Homo sapiens: one gene and its partners. The protein of the gene in region 1 purifies or fractionates together with the protein of each later gene. This does not show direct contact. Each region holds a gene or a part of one and is shown on either strand. Other genes may lie near its edges. The genes, in order: DGKQ, EHD4, KYAT1 and EIF4H.

Region 1 (4,386 bases):
ACTGTGTCCCCACAGGGTGGGCGTGGCCTACGTGTCCGTGCGAGTGACCCCGAAGAGCACGGCCCGCTCTGTGGTGCTGGAGGTCCTGCCGCTGCTCGGCCGCCAGGTGCGTACCCTGTGCCTGCTCCCCATGCCGGCCAGACTCGGTGGGGGGTCGCTGTCCCCAGGAGGCCAGGCCACCATCCCAGCCCAGGCGTGGCTGTCCCCGCGGGTGTCCTGAGGTGGTGGGGGCCTGCCCAGACCCGATGCCAAGCTCTACCCCAACAGGCCGAGAGTCCCGAGAGCTTCCAGCTGGTGGAGGTGGCGATGGGCTGCAGGCACGGTGAGTAGACAGCCCGTGCTGGGCGTGGCGGTCCCTGCACCTTTTGGGTTTGGACCTGCTGCCCAGGCTTTCCTGCAGGGTGGTGCCGGACATCAAGGCCGGGCTCTGCCCTCCTGACCAGCTCCACCCTGCATCCCCACGGGCCCTGGGGGCTCCGGGCAGCTGCTTCCAAGGTGGGCGAGGAGCCGGGTGCTGACGGCCTGTGCCCTCACCTCTGCAGTCCAGCGGACGATGCTGATGGACGAACAGCCCCTGCTGGACCGGCTACAGGACATCCGGCAGGTGAGTGGGTGTGGACGCCGGCCCCCAGGGAACCAGCAGCCCTCAGCCACAGCCTCTGCCCCACAGGGTGGGTGTGCCCCAGACGCCGAGTTCTCCTTGGCTAGGCAGCGGCTGTCCTGGCTGACAGGGCAGCGCCCTCGTCATGAGCTACTTGGTCCCTGCAGGGAGGCCTCGAGCTGCAGATCTCCCCGAGGTCCTCGAGGGGAACGGACAGGGGTTGTCCACAGCAAGGAAGCCTCTGTGGCCCCTTTCCTCGTTTTCCTGTTGACTTAATTCCTGGGAGTGTTCCTGATGCCCTGTTTTGCTGTTTTGCGGGTGAGGAGACAGAGGGCCTGGTGCGGTGGTGCCGTTCTCCCCGGCCCAGCATCCCCGCCCCTCTCCCTGCAGATGTCTGTGCGGCAGGTGAGCCAGACGCGGTTCTACGTGGCAGAGAGCAGGGATGTAGCCCCGCACGTCTCCCTGTTTGTTGGCGGCCTGCCTCCCGGCCTGTCTCCCGAGGAGTACAGCAGCCTGCTGCATGAGGCCGGGGCTACCAAAGGTGTGACCACTGTGGCTGGCCGTGGGCTGCTGGCACGGGGCAGGGTCGAGCGGCAGGCAGTGGGGCTGCAGTGCTGAGCCGGCTCCTGCCTCTCCTTGAGCCACCAAGGCCTGAGCTCCGGGTCCAGCCCACGTCTCTTCCTCCAAGAGGCTCTGGAGCCTCTCGCCCTCTGTGGCCGTTCCCTGCGGTGCTCAGCCTCTGCCTCTCCCTCTCCCTCTGGGGGGTCCTGTACCTCCAGGGAGCTGGGAGTCCTGCTCCTGGAGTGGGGCAGGGGTACTTCCTGGGGAGGCTGCCTTTGGGGTGAGATGTCACCCCTGGACAGGCGGAGGGGCTGTCCCTGGCCCCAGTGCTGTGTGTCCTTCGCCTCCCACCGCCCTGACCACAGCCTGCCTTTGCAGCCACCGTGGTGTCCGTGAGTCACATCTACTCCTCCCAAGGTGAGCTGCCCTGAGGGACGTGGTCACATGAGGCCCAGGGGTGTTCCTGGGGTGAAGTGGGACAGCCCTGGCCCTCACGTAGCACCTGACCTTTCCCTTGGGCAGCCCTGGGCTGGGGAAACGTCCTGGTTTGGTTCCTGCCCTGGCACCGTGGGGGCCATGGGACAGGCTCCCCCTGAGTCCTGGGCTCCTGCCGCAGGCGCGGTAGTGTTGGACGTTGCCTGCTTTGCGGAGGCCGAGCGGCTGTACATGCTGCTGAAGGACATGGCTGTGCGGGGCCGGCTGCTCACTGCCCTGGTGCTCCCCGACCTGCTGGTGAGTGTGCGGTCAAGCCGGCTCTTCACACACCCCAGGGGGTGGCCAGAGGGAGGTCGGGGTCTGCAGGTGCACAGGCCCCACAGCCAGACTCGCTGTTTTCATCTGGCATCACTTCCTTGAATTCACTGGGGGCTTGTAGGTGCCACCTTGTTTGTGCCTCACAACAGCAGGAAGGACTCTGTTGCCCGTTTTACAGCAAGGGGCCTGAGGTCAGAGGGTCAGCGCTCATCCGAGGCTGCCCAGTAGGTGATACCAGCTCCGTGGGGCACCGTGGGGTCAGGCCCAGCTTCCACGCTGCACCTGAGGCCTCCACCCAGTAGGGAGGCCCACAGGACGCAGCTCCTGGATGTGCCGGGCCCCGCTGCGGCTGCCTCGCCAAGGGCCAGAGCGTGTTTGTGACCAGCTGTCAGGATCCCAGGCATGGCCCTCCCGGTACAGCCTCAGCCTCACTCCCCCTGCCCGGGAGGCCTTAGGGCCTCTGCTCTCTGCCTGGAGCTCCCCAGGCCAGTCAGTGCAGCTCCCAAACTTTGAACGCTGCCCTTCAGACCCACAGTGCCCAGAAGAGGGGGCACCTGGCAACAGGGCAGGGCTGGGGGAAAGGGGGATCTGGAACATGGAGACAGGGCAGGGCCGGGGGGAACGGGGGTCTGGTCCGTGGAGACAGGGCAGGGCCGGGGGGAACGGGGTTCTGGCCCATGGAGGGGCTGGAGCCTGGGACTCCACGCTGCACACCGTGCCTTCACATTGGCCTCTCGTCCTCAGCCCATCTAGCCCCCAAAGGGTCCCATGAGGACCCCCCAGGTGTCCATGGCTGTTCTACCCCTGAACCTTGACCCTTGATCGTGACCCCAGTCCAGGCGAAGCAGAACTCGAGCAGAATGAGTTGTCTGTGGCTGGGACGGGAGATGCCTGTGGCTCCCTGCTATGCCTCCCTCCTGTGCCCCTACACCCGGCCTTGCCTGGCTCAGGACAGGGTGGCCATCCCCACTGTCCCGAGGATGCAGCCCCCACCCCAGCTCCACTCGCTCTGTGGGCAGAGCCAGGTTTGGGGCCGACACGCGCTTTCTCTCTCCCGTCAGCTGCCTGCCCTGGGGTGAGTGGTAAGTGGTGACCGCAGGCGGCTCTGCCTGCCAAGTGGGTCACGAAGCCCCGAGTGTGTCCTTGCCCCCAGCCACGGCCGGCCCCTGTGCCGCTGCCCACCCTGTGTCTGCACCCAGCCTGTGTGTCTCCTGTTGCCCAGCCTTCCCCGCTGTGGGGGCCCCAGCCTCCTGTCGTAGGGTCCCTAGCCTCCTGTCGTAGGGATCCCAGCCCTGAGCCCGCTGTGTCTAGATCCCTGGGTACTGTTTCTTGGGGTTGTGTGTGGGGAGATGGACTCTGTCCTGTGGTCGAGGGACGCCGCGTGCCACCCTGTGAGTTAAGAGCTTTTCTCGGCTGCTGTGTAGGTGGGCGGTGGCCTGGGAGCCGCCATCCTCCAAAGGTGTGCACCAGAGGCCCCCCAGGGGACAGGCCTTGGTCTCGCTGGCACAGAGTGCCACGCAGAGTCCCACGTGGATTTCCAGCCTGGACTCGCGCTGCATGGCCCAGGCGGGTGTGGTCTGTTCACACGCAGCTCAGTGGGCAGGTCTGAGGCCTTTGTGCTGGGAGTGCCAGGCAGCCAGCCGGCTGTCCTCAGTGCCGCCCTGCTGGCCAGCAGCGAGATGGGGTGACCACGCAGCTCATGTGTGAGGCCTCAGATGTGAGGGTGCTGGCCACGCCTTCCTGGGGAGGGGGCTGGTCCAAGCCAGGTGGGCTCAGGGTTGGGGGCTGGGCACTGCCTGGCAACCCCAGCAGTGGGGACACCCCACCTTGGGTCCCCATCCTAACCCAGCCCCCTGTCTGTCAGCACGCGAAGCTGCCCCCAGACAGCTGTCCCCTCCTTGTGTTCGTGAACCCCAAGAGTGGAGGCCTCAAGGGCCGAGACCTGCTCTGCAGCTTCCGGAAGCTACTGAACCCTCATCAGGTCTTCGACCTGACCAACGGAGGTCCTCTTCCCGGGTGAGTCCAGCAGGACCCCTGGTCCAGGGCAGCAGCAGGGGCGGGAAGGGCCCCAGGAGGCTGCCACAGCTGTCTCGGCCGGCAGGAGCTCCACGGGGATCCCGTGCTGGGACCTTGAAGTCCTCCACACGGCCAGGACGGGCACTTGGAAGAGGCAGCCTGGGTGGGGGATGGGCTGCGCCCGCAGCTGGTAGAGGACACTTCCTGTCTCCCGCTAGGCTCCACCTGTTCTCCCAGGTGCCCTGCTTCCGGGTGCTGGTGTGTGGTGGCGATGGCACTGTGGGCTGGGTGCTTGGCGCCCTGGAGGAGACACGGTACCGACTGGCCTGCCCGGAGCCTTCTGTGGCCATCCTGCCCCTGGGCACAGGTGGGCTCAGCCGTGCAGCCGAGGAGGGGGCCTCAGGGTCTACCCCTTCCTGTGCAGCTTTTGCCGAGGCCTGGGCTGGCTGTCCTCG
Region 2 (5,901 bases), on another chromosome or scaffold:
TCCAGCCTGGGTGACACAGGCAGACCCCATCTCAAAAAATAAATAAATATATACACACACACACACACACACACACACACACACACACACACACACACAGAGCCTGGGCGCAGTGGCTCACACCTGTAATCCCTACACTTTGGGAGGCCAAGGCGGACAGATCACTTGAGCTTAGGAGTCAAGAGACCAGCCTGTGCAACGTAGTGAAACCCCGTCTCTGCAGAAAATCCAAAAAAATTGGCCAGGTGTGGTGGTGCATGTCTGTAGTTCCAGCTACCCGGGAGGCTGAGGTAGGAGGATTACTTGAGCCCTGGAGGTGAAGGTTGCAGTGAGCCAAGATCGCACCACTGCACTCCAGCCAGGACAACAGTGTAAGACCCCGTCTCAAAAAAATATATACACGCACACACAACAGAGAAATGTCTCTTTTCTTCCAGCAGTGAAATGGGTATTCCTGTGCTCACAAGCTGAATTGGGTTTTTCTGGTCACCAGGTGGTATTGGAGGGCTGTTGTGGCCTCCAGGAGCAGTCTCCCTGGGCAACTTCCCCATTCACACCCCTGGTTATGCCCTGTATCCCATGACCAAGGAGTAAGACAGCTGTTTCCTTGTACCCTTCAGATATTTCAGAAGGGAACTTGGTTTCTTGACCTAAATGAAAGTTATAAAGAAATACAGAGCCTGAGCTGTGGCCCAGTTGGGGCCTCTGTGCCTCGCTGGCTTCCTGAAGTTGCTACAGTGCCTTGCCACAGGGAGACGCTGCTCTTGAGCCCTGGGGCTCCACAGAGGCCTCCCTTGCCAGGCCTCTCCTGCTGGTCCCCTGTGAGCCCGATAATGTAGGGAGCAGGCTCTGGGACCAGAGCTACTCATGACAAAGCTAGCCTGGGCTGGCCAGGTCAGAAGACACCCAGGGTCCTCTGAGCTGGGGGAAGGCAACAAGGAAAGCATGATCTCAGGAGCAGCCATGGCCCACTGAGATGGAGGGTACAAGGAGGGCCAAGCCTTTGCTGAGAATCACCTGGACTCAGGTCTATGCCCAGTACCTTAGCACCACGGAAGGTGGGTGAGCAAGCAAGTGCAGGATCCAGCCAGCCACTCCAAGTGCTGACATAGGAGCAGGCTCTGTGCATGGTCTGCAGCCAGACCAGGTGTGTCACCCCAAGGGGAACGTGGCAGTGCCCAGGCAGGGATGCCCGCAACCCCAAAGCCCCAGAGGGGGTGCTACAGTGTGCTAATTAGCTCTTTTAGTTGTGCATCATGTTAGCAGCTCAGTCACCCTCTTGCCCCACTCTGGCCCATGGCTCCGGTCCAGCTCGACCCCACCACTGCTTCTGTTGAGTGGCACGGCTACCCTGCAATGGTGAGGGCAGAGGGCCAGTGTTACAGCCTTTCTGGGTACCTGCGTTTGGTGGGTCCCAAGCTTTTGTCCTGCATCCAAGAAGAATAAGGTCATGCTGACAATTGAAGAGTGATGAGGGTGGAGGATTTTACTGAGCAACAAAACAACTCTCAGTGAAGAGGGGATGGGAAGATTGGGTTGTCTCTCCTGAAGTCAGGTCATCTCCCCAGTGTGGCTGAGTCTGGGGTTTTTATAGGCACAGGATAGAGGAGTGCATGCTGATTGATTTGTGAGTATGCAAAAAAGGTTAAAACAAAGGCACCAGTCAAAGGTGGACATAACAGTGTAAAAACAATTAGGGAAGGGTAGGTATATGTAAAATAGGTGAAGGGTGAGGATCAATCAAAGAAAAGCAGCCAAATGGAAAGACAGGTTCTCAATCCAGTCCATGGATTTGACTTGTAGCTTGGCCTGCAGGCTTTAAACTGCCTTTGGCTTGAAGATAGGGTTTCACTGGAGACCCACCCCTATCTGCCTCAGCATTTTTCTGCCTCCTGCTGCTATCACTGTTCTAGGCCCCTGGAATAAATCAACACAAAAAAATGAACAAATGAGGCTGGACATAGTGGCTTACGCCTGTAATCCCAGCACTTTGGGAGTCTGAAATGGGAGGACTGCTTGAGTCCAGGGGTTGGAGAACAACCTGGGCAACATAGTGGGACCCGATATCCATTAAAATATTTTAAAATTAGCCAGGTGTGGTTGGCTCATGCCTGTGTTCCCAGCCAGTTGAGAGGGTGAGGTGGGAGGATGGCTTAAGCCCGGAGGTCGAGGCTGCTATGAGCCATGATCACGCCACTGCACTCCAGCCTGGGCGACAGAGGAGACCCTGTCAAAAAACAGAAAAAATGAACAAATGGGGGTAAAAATAATTGACAGCAACCCCACTGTAAGGACACATGTTTCTTGTTACAATATGAGCACTGTTGTGCTTCCATGTAATTGAATTATCTGATGTCTGATATTTAGTATCTCTCTCCCACGTAAGTCTGTGGCTCCATGAGGTCAGTGACCCATGCCCTGTTCACTGCCATATCCCCAGCATCTAGGACGTGGTGAGTGCTCAATTCACACAAGCCAAGTGAATTAGTAAGTTAGTGTAAGGCCATATCACAGCAGGCTCTCAGGCCCTGACGCAGCCTCGATTCCCACAGGGCTTATAGACCAGGGGTTCCCCGTGCCAACCCCTAGAAGCTGCAGGAAGAGGCCTCCTTGGGAAGTAGGCTGAGGCCCAGTCACATCACCCCATTCCTTCGGAGAATCCCCAAGGAACAAGGCAGCCTGGAGCCTGTCAGGAATGCTTAGTGTCACCTGATACTGCAAGCTAGCTTGCTGTCACCGGAAGCTTTGAGGGGCGCGTGTGTGGGTTAGGGCCTGTCCCATCCCTGAGGCTGTTAAAGTCTAACATCCTCTGTAACATAGGCCTTGACAGAGGGGGGACATACGCTTAGAAGTGACCACACTGTGATCTTTGCACATATCAGGGTCACGCAGAGAGCTCGCTGATGCCAGCTTTAGGTTGTTATTCTCCCTGTTCTCTCATGGAGCCAGCTGGTCAGAGTGACTCTTAGCTGTAGCAGTGAGAGGAGAGTGTATTCTGAAGGCCCTTCCCTGAGCTGGGACAGGCCCTGCAACCCACCTGTGTGGCTGCCTGTGCGTGCCTGGCACGCTCTGGGGAGGGACCGTGACTGACAGCACAGTGTTAATACTGCAGGACAAGATGAGCACCCGAAGGGCCACCGTTACTGCTGACTCTGCTCCTCTGACTGGAAGGAGAATTTGGACCCCTCAGCTCATGAGTTGGCAGCATTTCAACAGCAGAGGGCAGCAGAGTCAGCCCCATCTGCTCAGACCCTCTGGTGGATTTGAAAACTCTTCTGGTTAATGTTGGCAATTAATGGGCAAGGGACAGCCCCACCAGAGACGGGGCTGGGAACTGACCTTTGCCTCTTGAGAGGGAGCAATTCCAGGGTCCTGGCTTAGTGGATACAACTGTTGATGGGCAAATACCTTTAAGTTCCCCAGTGTGTATTCATCCCAATAAGAACTGTTTTGGACTCACCGTGGCAGAGGGCAGGGATGATGATGGTTTGGTGCTGATGTCAGGAGTGACATGATGATGGTTTAACTGGTGCCCCCGCAGTCCCCGGTCAAGCCTGGGGGGGACCACAGGGATGAGAATGGAGGGTTTATTTCTTGCCTGCCTCCCAGGACAGGAATAACTGCTGCCTCCTGTCCACCCCTGCAAATATGCGGCCACTCCCCCTGCCAGTTTTCCAGAGCTCTGCAGTCGGAATCCACGGCCCCTGCAGGCTGGTGGGAAGTTTGGGCAGGCATCACCCTCCTTTGTCTGCTGGGCCAGACACAGGGGCTCTGTGTGCGCTCTGAGCGCAGGCTCATTCTTAAGGAAATGGGGTAGGTGTTCACGCACCCGGGGAATCCAAACTCGTTGACCCAGCAGCACTGGGATTTTTGTGGGGGACGCCTGCTCCTCCACCTGCTTAGCGTTCTCTTTTCCATCTCCTTGGCCCATTGAGATGTTGGTGGCAGGAGCCCGAAGTGCAGGCCGCATTGTTTGGTGCTGATGTCAGGAGTGACATGCTAGTGACTGCGTTTGAGAGACCCGGCCTGCAGTACCCGCTGCTCTGAGCTGAGCAGGGGCCACACGCTGGGTTTGCATGGTTTGATGGCTGCTGACTTTACTTCCTGAGAATATGTCAGAGTCCCTTCCCTAGAGAAATGTCAGCCCGTTTAGCTGATATTTCTCAGCTCTGTCCCCCCACCAACTACCACCCAGGAATCCCCTTCCAAATGTCAGCCCAGAATTCCTGCCCTGCCACCCTAGAGACCATGATTTTGATTCTCTATTGGAAACAACCTGTGTGTCCAGCTATAGGGGACAGGGTTAATTAAGAATGGCCCAGCTCTACAGTCTAAGTTCAATATTCTGTAACTGTTAAGAGAAAGGTTATGTAAAAATTAATACCACAGAAATATATGACATATTATTTGTTAAGAGTGTGGTATTGTTTCAGTGTGTGTGTGTGTGTGTGTGTGTGTGTGTGTGTGTGTATGTATGTTAATGGCTAGAAATGCATGCCCAGATATGCTAGCAGAGGTTTTTGCCAGATGATGAGATTATAAATTATTTTAAATTTTTAGTTTTGCTTACCAGTTTTTTCTGTTTTTTTTTTTTACAAGAAAGCATGATATTTATGATAACACCAAGTTTTTTTTTTTTTTTCCTAGCAGCCTGTCACATTGCTTCTGTCCAAAACAGCGAGGTCTGACTTTTCCTTGCAAATCTCCCTGCCTCATCTCCAGAAAATTGCACACCTGCATGGCCTCTCTTTGGCCCCCTCTAGAACTGTACATACAGAAATACTTCACATATAAAACCTGCCATACCTGGAACATTTCTGCATTTATTTAATAAAACTACTGTTGAAGACACTTTTCATCAGATCTTTGAAGCCTGTCATGTAAAGCTCTAGGTAACTCTCGCAGTTCAGAGCCACAGAAAGTTTGTCTCTTGCAATAAACAAGTGTTTTCTCTCCTTAGACAGTGAGGGTCCCCAGGGGTCCCCCTGGGCAACTGAGCTCTTCTCCTTATACAGGCGGTAGTTTTCCTTAACCTTAGCCATCTGATGTGATTATTCCCTTCCTCTCCCTAACATATATATATACATATGTATATATATACATACATATATATACACATACATATATATACACATACATATATATACACACATACATATATGTATACACATACATATGTATATATATATATATGGGTCTAATGACCAGGCTGGTCTTGAACTCCTGGGCTCAAGCAGTCTTCCCACCTTGACCTCCCAAAGTGCTGGGATTACAGGTGTGAGCCACTGAGCCTGGCCCCTCTCTCCCTTTTAATGACTTGGCTTTTTTCTTTCTAATGACTTTATAGATTTCATGTTATCCTTTTCACTGTGTTATGTCAAGTCCTTTTTTAAACAATTGGAGTATCCTTCCTCCATTACAACATAAGCTCATTTAAAGCAGGAATTATGGCTTTTCATATTTATTCTGTATCCCCAAGCCCCAGAACAGGGGCTGGTGCAGAGTAAATGACAAATAAAAGTTGGTCGGGTAGGTGGATGGATGGATGAATTGTTGGCTGAATGGATGGATGGAGGGTTGGTTGAATGGATGGATGGTTAGTTGGAGGATTAGTTGGACAGGTGGGTTGTTGGATGGATGGATGGATGGATGGATGGATGGATGGATGGATGGATGGATGGAGTAACCAAGGAGAACCAAGGTAGGAAGGTCAGTTTCTACGGTGCCATCCACAGAGCCTCTGTGGCATCCTGTAGTCTGCCCCAGCCTGGTTGGGCAGTCACAGTGTTTCCCAGGCCCCCTCTAGAGCCTGTGCTTCTGCTGCTCTGTCTGCTGACAGGCTGCCTCACTCAACAGGTAGAGCTAAGATATGTCCTGACCTGGCCAGTGATACTCAGGCTT
Region 3 (4,491 bases), on another chromosome or scaffold:
GGGTTTTACTATGTTGCTTAGGCTGATGTTGAACTCCTGGCATCAAGCAATCATCCTGCCTTAGCCTCCCAAAGTGCTGGGATTACAGGTGTAAGCCACTGCACCTGACATCTTCTATGTCTTGATGAATACGAGTCATCCTTAGTCATCCTTTGTTTTCAATGTTGTGAAATATCTCTGGGAGTTCCTGTTCTGTACATTTTGTGGTGAGATAATCCTGCCTTTTTTTTTTTTTTTTTTTTGAGACGGAGTCTCGCTCTGTCACTCAGGCTGGAGTGCAGTGGCGTGATCTCGGCTCACTCCAATCTCTGCCTCCCAGGTTCAAACGATTCTCCTGCCTCAGCCTCCTGAGTAGCTGGGATTACAGGCACGCACCACCATGCCCGACTTATTTTTGTATTTTTAGTAGGGATGGGGTTTCACCATGTTGGCCAGGCTGGTCTCGAACTCCTGACCTCAAGTGATCTGCCCACCTCGGCCTCCCAAAGTGCTGGGATTACAGGCGTGAGCCACTGCGCTCAGCCCAGGGAGTTCCTTTAATGTGAAGTTTTGCTGGTATTATTTCCTCTGGGTCATTATCTTTTTCTTTAGAACCACTTTCCTCATTTATGTTGATAAGTTTGCCTTCAAGAAGTTTCTCTGGATGCAGATCTCAGGTTTCCCAAACTGTGAACAGCTGCAGAGTTGCCATCCCCACAGCTAGCTATTTCTTCCATTATTCCATTTATGTTCAATTTGTTTTTTTTTGTTTTTTTTTTTTTTTTGGTTTTTGTTTTTGAGATGGAGTCCTGCTGTGTCGCCCAGGCCGGAGTGCAGCTGTGTGACCTTGGCTCACTGGCGTGGTGGCTCACGCCTGTAATCCCAGCACTTTGGGAGGCCGAGGCAGACAGATCACTTGAGGTCAGGAGTTCGAGACCAGCCTGGCCAACATGGTGAAACCGCGTCTCTACAAAAATACAAAAATTAGCCGGGTGTGGTGGTGGGCACCTGTAGTCCCAGCTACTCGGGAGGCTGAGGCAGGAGAATCACTTGAACCTGAGAGGCAGAGGTTGAAGTGAGCCAAGATTGAGCCACTGCACTCCAGCCTGACAGCTGTCCAGGTGACAGAGCAAGACTCCGCTTCAAAAAAAAAAAAAAATGTGTGGGATAACTGCTGCAATGGAGGCAGCTCAGGTGATCTGGCAGCACCGAGGAGGCCCAGCACCACTAGGCATGGGGACCATAGCTGTGCCGAGGACCCTTCTGGGGTAGCTCTCAGGCATCTAAGATCTGAGGCCTCCCTGCTGCCAGGCCAGGGGCCGAGGGCCAGTGGCCTGTGCCCCCCTCCAACACACACCTCTATCAGCCTGGGCAGCTACTGGCCATTTGCTTGACCCGAAGGCAGTGGATGACCCCTGGGCCCGTGGAATGCATCACTGATGCATTCCAGGGGCTGATGTCAATAACCCAGGGGCTGATGTCAGCTATGCCACTGTCCCCCAACCCCCATTGGACCAGCTCTGCCCAGAAGCCTGTGGTGACACTGGACAAAGTCCAAAGCCTCCTCAGCCTGGCGTTTGGAGCCGGCTGGAATCCAGGCTTGGCAGCCTCCACCTTCCCTCCCTTTACTCTTTTTTTATTTTAGAGATAGGGTCTCGCTTTGTCACCTAGGAGCCTTGAACTCCTGAGCTCAAGTGATCCTCCTGCCTCAGCCGCCTGAGTATCTGGGACTATAAGTGCATGCCCCAACCCCCAGCTCAAATTCTTTGCTTTTAAAAAAAAAAAAAAATAGAGACAGGGTCTCCCTATGTTACCCAGGCTGGTCTTGAACTCCTGGGCTCAAGTGATCCTCTGGTCTTGGCCTCCTAAAGTCCTGGGATTACAGCTTGGATTATAGGCATGAGACACCACACCCAGTCATCCTTTGTTCTTTTTTTTTTTTTTTTTTCTGTTTTTGAGACAGAGTCTGGCTCTGTCGCCCAGGCTGGAGTGCAGTGGCGTGATCTCAGCTAACTGGAAGCTCCACCTCCCGGGTTCACGCCACTCTCCTGCCTCAGCCTCCCGAGTAGCTGGGACTACAGGCGCCCGCCACCACGCCCTGCTAATTTTTTTTGTATTTTTAGTAGAGACAGGGTTTCACCATGTTAGCCAGGATGGTCTCAATCTCCTGACCTCGTGATCCGCCTGCCTCGGCCTCCCAAAGTGCTGAGATTACAGGCATGAGCCACGGCACCCGGCCTTTTTTTTTTTTTTTTCTTGAGATAGAGCCTCTCTCTTCACTCTGTCACCCAGGCTGGAGTGCAGTGGCACAATCTTGGCTCACTGCAACCCCCACCTGCCGGGTTCAAGTGATTCTCCTGCCTCAGCCTCCCAAGTAGCCGGGATTACAGGTGCACGCCACCACGCCCAGCTAATTTATTTTTATTTTTATTTTTTTGAGATGGAGTCTCACTCTTTCACCCAGGCTGGAGTGTAATGGCACGATCTCGGCTCACTGCAACCTCTGCCTCCCGGGTTCAAGTGATTCTCCCACCTCAGCCTCCCGAGTAGCTGGGATTACAGGCACCCACCATCATGCTCGGCTAATTTTTGTATTTTTGTAGAGATGGGGTTTCACCATGTTGGCCAGGCTGGTCTTGAACTTCTGGCCTCTGGTGATCTGCCTGCCTTGACCTCCCAAATTGCTGGAATTACAGGTGTGAACCACTGTGCCCAGCCACCCTTTGCTTTTGAATAAATGTTGCCCATCTTCACTCAAGCTGTTTCCCCTGCCTGGCATACCCTCCAATCCAAAATCCCTAGCAGGGCCTAGCCCCACCTGTACCTCCTCTCTGAAGCTTCTGTGTCCACCCAGGCCCTTTGCTGAACTCAGAAAGCACCTACCTGTGCCTGACCCTCTCCCCCAACCCCATGCTAAATTCTCTAATCCTCATCACAGCTGATTAGGATGGTATTATTTACTCTATTTTGCTCAAAAGGAGAACAAGGAAAACTCACTCAGCCTAGAGAGCTCCAGCTGTGATTCAAACCCTGGTTTGCCTATTTCCAAAGTCCAAATTCTGTCCCGTGAAATCTCCTCTCAGGCGGGTGCTAGGGCTGACAGGAGACCACCAGCCCCTTGGGGACAGGAGCCATGTCTTGTCCAACTTCACCTTGCATGGCTGCTTACAAGGGCAGGCGAGGTGACCATGCCTTCCCAGGGTGGCCCCACGTCACATCACTCAAGTCAATTATGACATTCGGTTTTGGAGCTTCTCAATAGGGGCACACTTAGAATTTGAGATGAGTCAGTTCTTCACTGGGGAGAGCTATCTGGAGCCTTGAAGGATGTTTAGCATCCCTGGGCTTAAAATGCCAGGAGACTCCCAGTTACTGAGACAACACACATCGTGGCACCTCTAGAGAAAGGGTACAGAACTGGGGATACCATGCCCAGGAAGACCAGTCTAGTGCATGAATAACCACAGAAGACCAAACCTTGGACTTGGATCAAATAGTCCCAGCTCCACCATAAACTAGCTATGGGACCTTGGTCATGCCAGGCCGCAGCCTCTTGGGGGCTCAGCTTCCTCATCTGTACAATGAAGGTGACAAGAATCCACAGAGAATATACTGTGGGTCCTGGCTCACAGCCACTTGTCAATGACAACAAGCTATTAACTTTTTTTTTTTTTTGAGACAGTCTTGCTCTATCGCCCAGGCTGGAGTGCAGTGGCACAATCTCGGCTCACTGCAACCTCTGCCTCCCAGTTTCAAGCGATTCTTGTACCTCAGCCTCCAGAGTAGCTGGGACCACAGGCACGTGCCACCACACCCAGCTAATTTTTGTATTTTTGATAGAGATGGGGTTTTACCACGTTGCCCAGGTTGGTCTCGAACTCCTGAGCTCAAGCGATAGTCCCACCTCAGCCTTCCAAATTACTGGGATTATAGGCATGAACCACCACACCCAGTCAACAAGCTATTAACATTTAAACCTACCAGGCTTTCCATAAAATTAGTAACCAAGCAAAATGAAAAATCTCTTATTATATAATGAATCCAAATTTTTTTTGATAGAAAAAAAACAGAATTCCCTGAAGACAAATGTTTGGTGACAATTTGTTGAGCCAATGTTTTCCTGGAGAGAACAGCCTGTCTGAGGAGATCTAACAATTGCGTCACTCAGACACAGTCCCCCTGGGCTTAGGAATTGGCAGAGGAGAGAGAAATGACTTCTGGAGTCCAGACGGCAGGTTTACAGGCTGGAGGGGTTGGTGGAAGACCTGAGTGACACAAACAGTAGGTATCTCACCACTTATTCCTCCTGGCACAGGACCCAGATTCAAAAACCACAATCTCACTCCCATACATTAAAGGAACACACAACAGATAGGCAGATAGCCTCGCGGGAGCCTTGGAGGAGGTGGCATCAGCTTTACAGGTGGGGAAACTGAGGCTTAGAGAGGGGAAATGACTTACTCGAAGTCCCAGAAAAGCACCAGGAGGCCCCCAGCTGCAAGCTGGGGAATG
Region 4 (5,901 bases), on another chromosome or scaffold:
CATTTGTAAGGTGTTGGTGATTTGGAAAGGACCTGTTCACTGAGCCAGGCAGAGCCATGCAGATGTTCCAGATGTTGGTACATTTTGTTATACAGTATCAAAGTCACATTCACCATAGCTGTTAGAAAAGTCTCTGAGTATTGAAAGACTGTCAGGCTTATGTTGATGGATACAGGTTTTCCGAAACTCTTTTTTGCTTGAAAGCTTAAATTTTACCATTGGCAACAAATACTGTTATTTTGGCCAGGTGCTGTGGCTCATGTCTGTAATCCCAACACTTTGGGAGGCCATGGCAGGAGGATCACTCTAGCCCAGTCTGGACAATATGTCCAGACCTGGTCTTTTCAAAAATAAAATTAGCTGGTGTGGTGGTATATGCCTATAGTCCCACCTACTTGGGAGGCTGAGGCTAGAGGATCACTTGAGTCCTGGAGATTGAGGCTGCAGTGAGCAGTGATTGCACCACAGCACTCAAATCTGGGCAACAGAGCAAGACCCTGTCTCAAAACAAAAAACCCAAATACTGTTCTTTTACTTCAAGGAACAGACTTAACTTCATTTTTAAAAAACTTAGTACCCATGTCTGAATTAACCATAGTTTGTTCTATAGAAAGAACAGCTAGTTCAGCTTGTAGCTCAAGTGCTTTTCCTGCAGCAGCCATCATGCTTGTGTATGCAGCAGAAGTGCTTTGCGTGTTTCATAACATAGGGTACTAAAAAGTGGGTCACGATTCATTTTTACTGCTTTACCAAGGATATTCCTAATTGAAGCTGTGATTTTTCTTCCTATTTTAAATACTTCAAGTGCATGGTGGGAAAGCATGAGTAATGTAGTTTGATGCCCCTGCCTTCGTTTGTATTAACACAAAGACCTGTTGTGAGATCAGTATAGGTCTTTGCTTTATAAATGTGGAATATTGTGAACCATTCTGGGAACCATATTTTAAGGCATCAGCACACTGGAGCCTATGAAGAAGAAGGTGATAGTGGGGATGGCCAGGCTCTGAAACTTCATCTTAGGAGGAAGGGCTGAGCAGCTTCAGTGAGGACCTTCGAAAGAAGCCTCAGCAGCAGTGATACAGCAGCTCTTAAGTCTCTGGGACTGCTGAGTGGAAGAAAGGTGTGGCCCTCCAGGCCAGAATAGGACCAAAGGATTACATCTTGGCCTTCTTCAGAGACTGCACAAATGTAAAGAACTGCTGCTTGAGCTAAATAATTGTTTTTTTAATAGAGACAGGGTCTCCCTTTGTTGCCTAAGCTGGTCTTGAACTAGCCTCAAGGGATACTCCTGCCTTGACCTCCTAAAGTGCTGGGATTGCAAGCATGAGCCACCACGCCCAGCCTCAACCATTTTTAAGTGTACAATTTAGTGGCATGGAGTACCTTCATAGTGTTGTGTAACCATTGCCACTATCTAGTTCCAGAACCTTTTCATAATCCAAACAGAAACTCTATACCCACTAAACAACTCCATTCCTTTCCCAGTTTTAACCTCATAAACATTTTGGCTATTTCTGTTACATCTATCTTCCCTACTTTTGGGTGGAGGTGTGGGCTAGGATAATTTAAGGCTAATCCTAGTCACCTATCCTTCTAAAATAGTTCTTATTTTTTTAAATTTTAATCCTCATCTTTGTGTTGGTAAATATTACATACTTTAGAGCAATTTTTGTTTCAATTTTTATGGCTACCGTAGTAGATGTATCTTATATATTCTTTCTTTGTTTTTTTTGTTTTTTGTTTTGTTTTGTTTTCTGAGGCAGAGTTTTACTCTTGTTGCCCAGGCTGGAATGCAGTGGCACTATCTCGGCTCACCACAACCTCCGCCTCCTGGGTTCAAGCGATTCTCCTGCCTCAGCCTCCCGAGTAGCTGGGATTACAGGCATGTGCCACCACACCTGGCAAATTTTGTATTTTTAGCAGAGATAGAGCAGAAACAGAGGGTTTCTACATGTTGGTCAGGCTGGTCTCGAACTCCCGACCTCAGGTAATCTGCCTGCCTCGGCCTCCCAAAGTGCTGGGATTACAGGTGTGAGCCACCGAGCCCGGCCTTTTTTTTTGAGATGGAGTCTCACTCTGCCTCCCAGGCTAGAGCTCAGTGGCGCGATCTCAGCTCACTGCAGCCTCCGCCACCACCCCTCAGCCTCCCGAGTAGCTGGGATTACAGGCACCTGCCACTGTGCCCAGCTGATTTTTGTACTGTTAGTAGAGATGGGGTTTCACCATGTTGGCCGGGTTGGTCTTGAACTCCTGACCTTGTGATTCATCCGCTTCAGCCTCCCAAAGTGCTGGGATTATAGGTGTGAGCCACCACACCCGGCCTCTTACATACTTTTCATACTTGAGTATGTTTCTAACAGATAAGGGCTTCTTTTTTTTCTTTAACCAACAGTTTTTCCAGTACCCAGTGTTCAGTTTTTCCCAGTTTTTGCAAAGATGACTTTGTATAGTTGGATTGTTTGAATATGCAAAACATTACAGAAAAATGTAGAAAATTTAGAACACGAACCAAAGCATAATATAGTGACCTGTATACCCATTACCTACTCTTTAAGTGACCACTCTTCTCTATACTACTATGGTTTATAATAGGTAGTATAAATGGTATTTATCAAAGGCTTGACCTTTGAAAGCTTAACCATTTTTGATGATTGTCAAAAACCCAAATGTTACCTGTTTGTAGATATGGGGTTTTGCCGTGTTCCCCACGCTGGTCTCAAACTCCTGAGCTCAAGTGATCTCCCCACCTTGGCCTCCCGAAGTGCCGGGATTGCAGGTGTGAGCCATGGCGTCCGGCCAGTCATTTTCTTTGGTTTACACTACTTTACCCTTCTGGGCCCTACTTTCCCCAAATGAGAGCTAGAAACTCCTCTGTTGGGAGGTTTAAATGAGATGTGTCTCATAATTTGGAGGCATAGTCTTGCCCTGTTGCCCAGGCTGGAGTGCAGTTGCACAATCACAGTCCCAAAGTGCTGGGACTACAGGCCGGAGCCACATGCCCATGCCCAGCCTTGAGCACTCAACTTTCTGTTGCATCTACTTACTGGATACATCCCTACCCTCATAACATCTACTCTGTACATTGGCTTCTTTTTATAGTTACCCTCTCTCAGTCTCCTTTGACACCTACAGATCTTTTCTGGCTCACCCTAAGGGTTCAGTATTGGCCCCATCTGCCATCTGGAAGTGGAGTCCCACTTCTGTTGCTCTCTGCTGTGCTGCATATCCTGGCTCCCAACTGCTCCACCCTGGTGAAACTGTTCTCATTGCTATCTTCCAGATTTTCTGCAGTCCTTTGCTTGTGACGTGATTTCTCCTTTCCAAATTATCAGCTCCTTGAGGGCAGAAACCGAGTCTTAGGTTTGTGCCTTCTCTACATTCTCTCCACCCTTCATAGACATGCAGATACGTGGTTGATTTGAGTAAGGAAAAGTGATTTGCCTGTCAAGGATTTTAGTCACACTTGGAGCCGAAAGTAGGGTTTCCTAAATTACTGAGGCTGTAATTGACTACTTTAATCTTTCATAATCAATAGACTGTCCCTAATGGGCAGTAGAAAGGACACTGCTCAGTAGTGGCAGGGAGTTTGCAGCACAGACCTTGACTTCAGGTGTCCTGAATTGGCACGCTCTGCTGATCTGTTCCTGTTCTACACGCACTCCTGCCAGCCCAGTGTAGCCTCAGGCCTGTTGGGTCTACCCAGGAGCATGGCAGAATTATATAGCACTTGGTACTTAGGAAATGTTTTTATGGTCAGTTTTAAACTTATAAAATCAAGATTGAAATATAACAGACAAGAAAACATAGGTACAGAGGTAATTTGGCAGAGGTCCTACATCAAGCTAGCTAAGGTGTCAAGTGAACCTGTTCTCCCATGTGTTGTTATTGATCTGTGTAGGAATGTACTGAATTTCACGAAACACAGCTTATTTATTTAGGTAGTAGTCCCCCAAACTTGAATCTAGTGAAAGGTGGCAGACATTTTAGCTCAGAGTTTTCTGACATTTGATTTTGTAAATGAATCGGTGGGTAACAGATCTGTGTCATCCTATGTGATGTGATGTGATGTCATCCTATGTGATGTGTACTCTGGGGTACTCACATCCTATGTGATGTGTCTCAAGTGACTGTCACACAGTGGACACTTTACCAGTGCTAGCTTGAATGAGGTCTACCTCCATGGCCCAGCCCTGCTGCCCCCTAGTGATTTCATTGAATGGGATGAAAAGGTAAAAAGTGCTTAAGACCTGTAGAAGGGACTACATCAGGTAGGGTATGGGAATATTTAGGACTACTTTGGTAATTATTGAAAAGTCTAGAGTATTAAGCCACTGGTGGTTTTGTGAGGCACGAGTGAGTTGAACAGTTTGGTGGGCTTTGGTGTATCTTTGCTCCAGAATTATATCACCAGTTAGCTGTTAGGTGCTGCCATTTGGTAACGTGCCAACTTTTCAAAAATGGTTTGCCCCAAACTAGATTTTTCTATCTTCTCCAAAGCCAGAGCCACCTTCCTGTCCTAGTGCATTTTTAGCAGTGCCCCGTCATCTTACTGGCATTCACCTGGGCTTCCTGTGCTCAATCAGGGGTCAAGTCTGGCCTGATCTCAGTTCCACAGTTCCTCTACTCTGTAAGTTCGAGCACAATTAGCAAGCCTTCGCACCTCCATTTTCCTTACTTAGCAACTACATCAAACACCCGAGAGTTTATCATCTCTCTTCATCCTCACCCTCCTTTTTAGTTTTTATGTATATGTTACACATTCATACACACAAACATACCTGCATATATACATGTGTTTTATACGTCCCACACAACTGTGAGCTGCTTACATACAAGACAGTCTTTTAACATCATTACGCATCACTAGATGTTTAATGTTGAGTAATGAATTTAAACTGTTTTTAACATTGACCCTCCATTTTTATGGTTTTCCACATGTTTATACTGTATCTTGTTTTTTGTTTGTTTGGTTTTGTTGTTGTTTTTTGTGCTTTTTTGTTTGTTTTTTGTGTTTTTTTGTTTTTGTTTTTTTGAGATGGAGTCTCGCTCTGTAGCCCAGGCTGAAGCGCAGTGACACAGTCTCAGCTCACTGCAAGCTCCACCTCAGCCTCTGAAGTAGCTGGGATTACAAGTGTGTGCTACCACACCTGGCTAGTTTTTGTATTTTTAGTAGAGACGGAGTTTTACCATGTTGGCCAGGCTGGTCTTGAACTTCTGGCCTCAAGTGATCCACCCACCTTGACCTCCCGAAGTGCTGGGATTACAGGTATGAGCCACTGTGCCCCGCCTTTTTGTTGTTGTTGTTGTTTCTTCAGTTGGAGACAGTCTCCTTCTGTCACCCAGGCTGGAGTGCAGTGGTGCCATCACAGTTCACTGCAGCAACAACCTCCTGGGCTCAGGTGATCCTCCCACCTCAGCCTCCCAGGTAGCTTGGGACTACAAGTGTGGACCATCACTCCCGGCTAATTTTTTGTATTTTTTATAGAGATGGGGTCTTACTGTGTTGCCCAGGCTGGTCTTGAACTCCTGGCTTTAAGTGATCCTCCCGCCTCAGCCTCCCAAACTGTTGGGATTACAGGCATGAGCCACTGGGCCCGGCTTTATACTGTAACTCATATATTTATTATCCCGTCCTAAATAGTATCTTACTGAAAATATTTTAGGATTTATGATTTCGGAGATATCAGCGATAGAGTACTATTGGCAAAGGTTATTGAAATGCAAAGTAAGTCACATTTACTAGGCCCGAAAAGATGGGAGAAGTGGGCAGGTAGGATGCAATTCACTTGTAAACCTATTTTCTGGTGGTCTTAGAACAGAACGTGGAACTTCCTATTGGAAAGTACCGGAATTGTGAATTATGAAACTTAAAAGCTTTTTTTTTTTTAACCATCAAAGAAT

Evidence for each region.
Region 2: the proteins of DGKQ (region 1) and EHD4 fractionate together in Homo sapiens (co-fractionation; one large-scale study listed by BioGRID). This does not show direct contact.
Region 3: the proteins of DGKQ (region 1) and KYAT1 fractionate together in Homo sapiens (co-fractionation; one large-scale study listed by BioGRID). This does not show direct contact.
Region 4: the proteins of DGKQ (region 1) and EIF4H fractionate together in Homo sapiens (co-fractionation; one large-scale study listed by BioGRID). This does not show direct contact.

The regions. Positions count from the first base shown.
Region 1 is NC_000004.12:962,684-967,069, reverse strand, and holds part of DGKQ (diacylglycerol kinase theta), read left to right. Parts: intron 1-15; coding exon 16-106; intron 107-267; coding exon 268-322; intron 323-542; coding exon 543-604; intron 605-768; coding exon of another isoform or gene 769-991; coding exon 992-1,142; intron 1,143-1,540; coding exon 1,541-1,579; intron 1,580-1,778; coding exon 1,779-1,894; intron 1,895-2,976; coding exon of another isoform or gene 2,977-2,994; exon of another isoform or gene 2,995-3,618; intron 3,619-3,779; coding exon 3,780-3,931; intron 3,932-4,149; coding exon 4,150-4,298; intron 4,299-4,386. UniProt on the Homo sapiens protein: Diacylglycerol kinase that converts diacylglycerol/DAG into phosphatidic acid/phosphatidate/PA and regulates the respective levels of these two bioactive lipids.
Region 2 is NC_000015.10:41,902,023-41,907,923, reverse strand, and holds part of EHD4 (EH domain-containing protein 4), read left to right. Parts: intron 1-5,901. UniProt on the Homo sapiens protein: ATP- and membrane-binding protein that probably controls membrane reorganization/tubulation upon ATP hydrolysis. Plays a role in early endosomal transport.
Region 3 is NC_000009.12:128,874,501-128,878,991, forward strand, and holds part of KYAT1 (kynurenine--oxoglutarate transaminase 1), read right to left. Parts: intron 1-4,491. UniProt on the Homo sapiens protein: Catalyzes the irreversible transamination of the L-tryptophan metabolite L-kynurenine to form kynurenic acid (KA), an intermediate in the tryptophan catabolic pathway which is also a broad spectrum antagonist of the three ionotropic excitatory amino acid receptors among others.
Region 4 is NC_000007.14:74,179,693-74,185,593, forward strand, and holds part of EIF4H (eukaryotic translation initiation factor 4H), read left to right. Parts: intron 1-5,901. UniProt on the Homo sapiens protein: Stimulates the RNA helicase activity of EIF4A in the translation initiation complex. Binds weakly mRNA.